Linked DNA regions of Homo sapiens. The protein of the gene in region 1 purifies or fractionates together with the protein of each later gene. This does not show direct contact. Each region holds a gene or a part of one and is shown in the gene's direction. Other genes may lie near its edges.

Region 1 (3,500 bases):
TACTCACACATTTCTTCTTACAAATTGCAGTAAGTCTGAGGGATGATGGTAGACCATAGATTGGGGGTGGACCTTCTATAGAATGGTGTCTATGGGGAAGTGACTTATAAAATGAGACCTGATGGTTGTCTAGAAGGCTGGGGAGAGCATTCCAGGTGAGAGGGAAAGGCCTTGCCCTTTGAGGACCTGAAACACAGCCTCAGTGTGTGATGAGGAGGGGTGTTCCCACCTTCTCCACTGCTACCACACGTCCAAGCCACCATCATCTCCCTCTACCTGGACCAGCCCAGGAGCCTACTTGTTAATCTTGCAGCTTCCACTTTATCCTGACCCTCCCTTCTTTCCTCCCCTACCCCAGTCAGTCTGTTTTCCACACAACTATGGAGATTCTTTGCAAAAGGAATCATGTAATGTCACTCCTCTATCCTCAGCTCCCTAACAACCCAAAGCCTTTCCCGTCGCTGACCATGCCATGCATATTCTAGGCCCTGATGCCTCTCAGACCCCCTTTCCCATGTCCGTTGACTTGCTCTCTGTTCTTTAGACATGCTCACCTCGCTGTACTTGAGCTCTTGCTCTCATGCTGGTCTTAGGGCTTTTTACTTGCCCTCTCCCTGCCTGGGATCATCTTCACTCAAATGTTGGCTCCTTCATTCCACCCAGGTGCCTGCTCAAATGTTTCCCTTCTCTGTAGCGGTATCTTCTCTTGAAAAAGAGTATTCTTTAACCTGCTTCAATTTTCCTTCCAGAACTTCTCACTGCATGACGTTATGCTCTATACGTGTTTTTTGCCAGTCTTTCCCACCACAATAAAAGCTGTACCATGTCAGGGTCTTTGCTGTGTCCACTGATATATCCCTACCACCTGGACTGGTACCTGGTACAGTAATAGATGTTTACTGAGTATTTGTGAACAAGCAAGTGAATCATCACTCATGCAGGAGAAGTAGGCAGAATCAATGTACCTGGAGCCTTGTGTGACTTAAAGGATTTTGCATTGTATCCTAAGGGCCATGAGATTAAAGGATTTCAAACATGGGAATGACAAGATGAGCTAAATTTTGGAAGTAGAGCTCCAAAGCCTTGTTTGGTTTTGAAATGGAAGGTTGAAGGAGAAGGAGATGCCAGGGATGACCCCAGGTTCATATAAAGAACAGTGGAACAGAAAGAGGGGGCATTTGCTGAGAGGTGCAGTTTGGGGAGAGAGGTCTCTTAATTTAAGGCTCAGGTTGCTTGAGATAAGTGAGAGATGCCTGGGAGATGTTCAGGTGGGTGTGGCAAGTAGGGGTTGGATGTGCAGGGCTGAAATGCCACTAGAGGGCAATTGTGCCTTTCCCTACCAGGGGAATTGGGGCTGCATATTCCATGTCAGGGCTGAAGATCTAAGCAGTGCTTGCTGTTTACTCTGTTGAAAGGTCTGTTGTCTCAGGGCTTTTAAGCATTTCACAGGTCACAAGCAGTTATTTTTCTTTCTTGAGGGTGAGGCAGGGGAGCCTTGTTTTTATCTAGTGACTGATTTCTTGATAATGAACTGGTTGCTCCCTAACTACTGACCAGATGAACTTGGACAAGTGAAGCTTTGTGAGGTCCGATTTCCTCTTCTGTATAAGAGCCATAATAATTATTATCCCCTAAATGTTTGGGTAAAAATTGGATGACATAATGCAAGTAAAGTATTGTGCAGGGATAGAACTGATACTTAAGTTAGTTTAATTTTTATGGCCATACTAATTATTATCCCCTAAATGTTTGGGTAAAAATTAGATGACATAATGCAAGTAAAGTATTGTGCAGGGATAGAACTGATACTTAAGTTAGTTTAATTTTTATGGACAGCTACAAATCTTCAGCTTCCTCCTACTCCCTCACCTCCTCCCCTAACCTCACAGGTAATTCACCAGTTACAGGCTCTCCCTTTCCAGGAAGTCTGAGCCTGCTGACACCTCAGATGTGTACTTCCCTTGAATGGTTGTGTCTCTCTTTTCAGGATATCAACCAGAAACTCCAGGAAGACAACCAGGAACTGAGGGACCTCTGCTGTTTCCTGGATGATGACCGGCAGAAAGGCAAGAGGGTGTCTCGGGAGTGGCAGAGACTGGGTCGCTACACTGCCGGGGTGATGCACAAGGAAGTGGCCTTATACCTGCAGAAGCTGAAAGACCTGGAGGTGAAGCAGGAGGAAGTGGTGAAGGAGAACATGGAGCTCAAGGAGCTCTGTGTGCTACTAGATGAGGAGAAGGGTGCAGGCTGCGCAGGCAGCCGCTGCTCCATCGACAGCCAGGCCAGCCTGTGCCAACTCACAGCCTCCACCGCACCCTACGTGCGGGATGTGGGTGACGGCAGCAGCACCTCCAGCACTGGCAGCACTGACAGCCCGGACCACCACAAGCACCACGCGAGCAGTGGCAGCCCGGAGCACCTGCAGAAGCCCCGGAGCGAGGGCAGCCCGGAGCACTCCAAGCACAGGAGCGCCAGCCCCGAGCATCCACAGAAACCCAGAGCCTGTGGAACCCCAGATCGCCCCAAAGCACTCAAAGGACCTAGCCCGGAGCACCACAAACCCTTGTGCAAGGGCAGCCCCGAACAGCAAAGGCACCCGCATCCAGGGAGCAGCCCCGAAACGCTGCCCAAGCACGTGCTGAGTGGGAGCCCGGAACACTTCCAGAAGCACCGGTCAGGGAGCAGCCCTGAACACGCCAGGCACAGTGGAGGGAGCCCGGAGCATCTTCAGAAACACGCTCTTGGGGGGAGCCTAGAGCATCTCCCCAGAGCCAGGGGCACCAGCCCGGAGCACCTCAAACAACATTATGGAGGGAGCCCTGATCACAAACACGGAGGAGGCAGTGGAGGAAGTGGAGGCAGCGGCGGAGGCAGCAGGGAGGGCACCCTCAGACGGCAGGCACAGGAGGACGGGTCACCCCATCACCGGAATGTCTACAGTGGCATGAACGGTGGGTCAGTATGTGCTGGGGTGCTGCTTGGGCTGGGGAACTCAGTAGAGAGTTACGAATGATGATGGACTTTCCAGCCATGTAAGAAAGTGCAGGCGCTAGCTAGGGAGTGGGTTTGGGGAAGGAGCAAATGTTGGACCCAAAATCATGATATGGGGTTCTTCTCCTCCATCTGTTTTTATTCTAAACAGTTATCAGTCAGTGTGAAGAAGTTTGGGGATGAGGGTTTATGGGAGGGAGAGGAACAGTAATTCCTTAGGACCTTGAGTTGTCAAAGGGAAATCTTTGGGTATTGGTGATAAAAAATAGAACCATTCTAAGAGTCTTTCATCTTAAACCTGAGCATTTTCTTAGTGGTGTGTGCTGTTTCCTACCAGAGCTTGTTTGTGGAATGGTTGCCAAAAGGATTTTGAATCCAGTTAATAGGTTATATACAAGAAGATATGAATATTTCTATGAAAAACCAATAACATTAAAAAAGAAGTATGATGTTCCTAAACAGGCTTGATGCTGGTCTGCCCAAATGGCTATAAATATGCCTGACTTTAC
Region 2 (3,500 bases), on another chromosome or scaffold:
ATTTTCTTTACAGAAGGAAGTTGTCCTGGACATGTGACCAAAGGGTCTGTGGGATGAGGTTGTGGAGGGAAGGTAGGGAGAGTGGATGGGCAAGAAGCAGGGACAGGTGGCATGAGGATTGACTCTCCCTCACCACTGCCGTCCGGTGGCCACCATGGACCCAGCATCAGACAGACATAAGAAGTGGGAATGAGGAAGGCAGGAAGAGAGATTATGATGGCAGAGGGAAGGAGGGTGGGTTGGTGGGTGGGAAGAGAAGTTCCTGTGTCCACCATGTTTTTTTTCCCAAGGTACACATTCAAGTCAAGTCCTCCTCACCTGGATAGTAATAACCCATGCTATTTATTTTATATTTTTCCAGATCAATGAACTGAGCCATGTTCAAATCCCTGTTATGTTGATGCCAGATGACTTCAAAGCCTATTCAAAAATAAAGGTGGACAATCACCTTTTTAACAAGTAAGTACAAGTATGACCTTTCATAAGACTAGCGTGGCTGCTAGGAGTACAAGTTTTGTGAATTTTTGTAATCACATAATTTGTCAATGGGTGGGAGTAAAGTTTTGCTGATGAAGTTAATCCTGTGATAAACATAACCATCTGTCATTTTTAGAGAAGCAACAGCAGGCTCTCTGGGATAATATCCTTTGCCATATGGCATATTGTTCTCTATGAATATCTTATACGTTGAAAGTGATATTCTCATTATAATTCAAATTTTTGAAGCTGTAAATTGCTTGGATTTTTGAGCAGTTATGAACCTCTGCTCTTGTACACAGAACTTTGAAAATGATGATTTATGAACAGCAATGACTCCATCTTAGAACAATAAAGACCCAAGGTACATTTTCATAAGGCACAATTAGATGCCATGTTGGGCATTGATAACATTCCTCCTTCATTTGAATGTTGTTTTAGACGTCATTATGAAGCACCTATTATATGTTAGGTGGTCCATTGAGAGCTAGAGATGCAATGATATAGAAGACACGGCCCTGCCCTCAAGGGGCTCAGAGTACAAAAACTGACACATATACAAACTGCTATAGTTCAGTGTGCAAAGTATGATAAGGGAGGGGTGTGTGCATATGTATAATTTAATTTATCTGGTTGTGTGGGAACACAAAGAGGGAAACAATTCTGAATGATTAGGGTGAACCTCAAATCACTCCCATGTGAGGATCATTATGAAATTTTTTTTTGAGACAGGATCTTGCTCTGTTGCTCAGGCTGGTGTGCAGTGGTGAAATTATATCTCACTGCAGTCTCAAATTCCTGGGGTCAAGCAATCCCCCTTCCTGAGCCTTCTGAATAGCTGGGACTACGGGTGCAGGTTACCATGCCCAGCTGATTTTTTAAAAAACTTTTTGTAAAGACAGGGGTCTCACTATGTTCCCCAGGCTGGCCTCAAACTCCTGGCCTCAAGAAATCCTCCCACCTCAGTCTCCCAAAGTGCTGGGATTACAAATGAGTGGTGTAAGCCACCATGCCAGGCCAATTATGAAATTTCTTCAGGGGGCCATTGTCCTTATGTGAAGCTGATGTTAATTTTTCTCATAACAGTGTTTAGAAGCTGACTTTCAGGGAATTTCCTCTAAGCAAATTTAGAATGTGGCATTTATATAAAACAGGCCTTTTAGGGGGGTGAGGGAGTGGCCCTCCTTTCCTCAGCAGTAGCTGAGAGGGAACCTTGCTCCGCTGCCTCTTCCTAACTCACTCTCCCGCCATTGTGCTTTTCCCTCACTGCTCCCCCTGCCTGGCCCGTTCCTTCCCCACCTCTTGTTCTTTGAGGAATGGCTGCAGTGTGTGGCCAGGATTTAAAGAGGTCACATAGTCCAAGCGTGCCTGTGACAAAGGAGACAGACAGACATCCGTCTGGCCCCCTGTGTCTCCTGGATCTTTCTGCGGGTTGTACCTGGTTCTAGGAAGCACACCTGTGCTTTTGGTAGGCAGTGAACTCTGAACCCTTCTTTGGCTACCTGTGGAACTCAGTGGTGGCAGATGCAAGTCTGATTGACTCTCTCTGAGCTTTATTCCACGCTGTGACTGTTTCAGAGAAAACATGCCGAGCCATTTCAAGTTTAAGGAATACTGCCCGATGGTCTTCCGTAACCTGCGGGAGAGGTTTGGAATTGATGATCAAGATTTCCAGGTGAGTTGCGTTTGTAACATTTGCTTCCAGTAGGAAATGGGTTTTGCCATGACTTTTGCTGTGTCAATTGGGATCTGTATTTTTGTCAATAAAAGTATTATATAATAGTAATTTTCATTTTGTGTAAGAAGTTTTTAATGTTCATGCTGAAGTAAAGTGTTCTCTTGATTGGGGACCTCTATACATATGATACCGGTATAAAAGTCAGTAGGAAAATATATTACTTTTCTTTGGAAGGAGACTGAGCATGTGAGGGTTTTATATAATACTCTCATTTCCAGGTGGAAATTAACAGGCTAGCAGAGCTGCCTGTTAATTTCTGCTGTCAGACATGTCAGTAGCCTGTGTGAGTGTGCATGTTTTGTATCTTCGTAGAGGCTACTTAGGACTCTCAGGAATCTTTATCTTGCTGATTTGCTGCTTTTCAAGTTGGTCAGACTCTTGCTGCAGCATTTTTGTCAAAGGGCACCCTTTGTGCACTGCAGTGCTGGACTGTGGAGTGACCATAGCACTGTGGTCAGCACCAGGAACCCAACATCCTGGGCGTGTCCTGTGGTACATCTTCCTCTTCATCTTGATTCCCACCACGTAAAAATGTGCACTGCTGCTCTCCTCCCCACACTGGCCTGGTCCTTCATTCTAACTTTTAAACATCTGTTTTAACTCTTTAAATAACTGTTGAGCCATGATCATTTTTTTCTGAGAAAGGATTTGACATTGGTTACCCAAGTTTCATATAGCGAGCCAGATTCGTAAATGCTAAGGATTTTTTTTAAAAGTGGAAATCCAAGGGACAGGTTGAGTATCCCAATCAGAAAATCTGAAATCCAAAATGCTTCCAAATCGAATATTTTCTGATCATCAACGTGATGCCACAAGTGGAAAATTCCACAGTTAAGTGCTCAACACAGCCTTTGTTTCATGTACACAATTATTTAAAATATTGTATAAAATTACCTTTAGGCTATGTGTATAAGGTGTATATGAAATAGATAAATTTCGTGTTTAGACTTGGGTCCCATCCCCAAGATATCTCATTATCTTTGCAAATATTCTGAAATCTGAAAAAATCTGAAATACGACTGGCTGCAGGCATTTCAAATAAAGGATGCTCAGCATATACTGACTTAAGTCCCTTCAAATCTAGTCCTAATCTGCCCTCAATTTAAGATCTGAATTTATCCTGCATTAAGTGACATATTGCCACCCTGGGTGACTACAGATTGAGTACTGATACAGCTTACCCTGTATTTTCCTCTGAAGAATAGGGTCCCTCAGGCAAACTGAGATAGTTAGCACACTTTCCTAAAGATCTGTGCTCCCACTGCCCTCTCTGTACCATTGCCAA

What was found. Proteins that work in one complex are often made in the same cells at the same time.
Region 2: the proteins of CCDC85A (region 1) and PIP4K2A purify together in Homo sapiens (affinity purification with mass spectrometry; one large-scale study listed by BioGRID and IntAct). This does not show direct contact.

The regions. Positions count from the first base shown.
Region 1 is NC_000002.12:56,190,490-56,193,989, forward strand, and holds part of CCDC85A (coiled-coil domain-containing protein 85A), read left to right. Parts: intron 1-1,987; coding exon 1,988-2,951; intron 2,952-3,500. UniProt on the Homo sapiens protein: May play a role in cell-cell adhesion and epithelium development through its interaction with proteins of the beta-catenin family.
Region 2 is NC_000010.11:22,606,579-22,610,078, reverse strand, and holds part of PIP4K2A (phosphatidylinositol 5-phosphate 4-kinase type-2 alpha), read left to right. Parts: intron 1-361; coding exon 362-459; intron 460-2,055; coding exon 2,056-2,152; intron 2,153-3,500. UniProt on the Homo sapiens protein: Catalyzes the phosphorylation of phosphatidylinositol 5-phosphate (PtdIns5P) on the fourth hydroxyl of the myo-inositol ring, to form phosphatidylinositol 4,5-bisphosphate (PtdIns(4,5)P2). Has both ATP- and GTP-dependent kinase activities.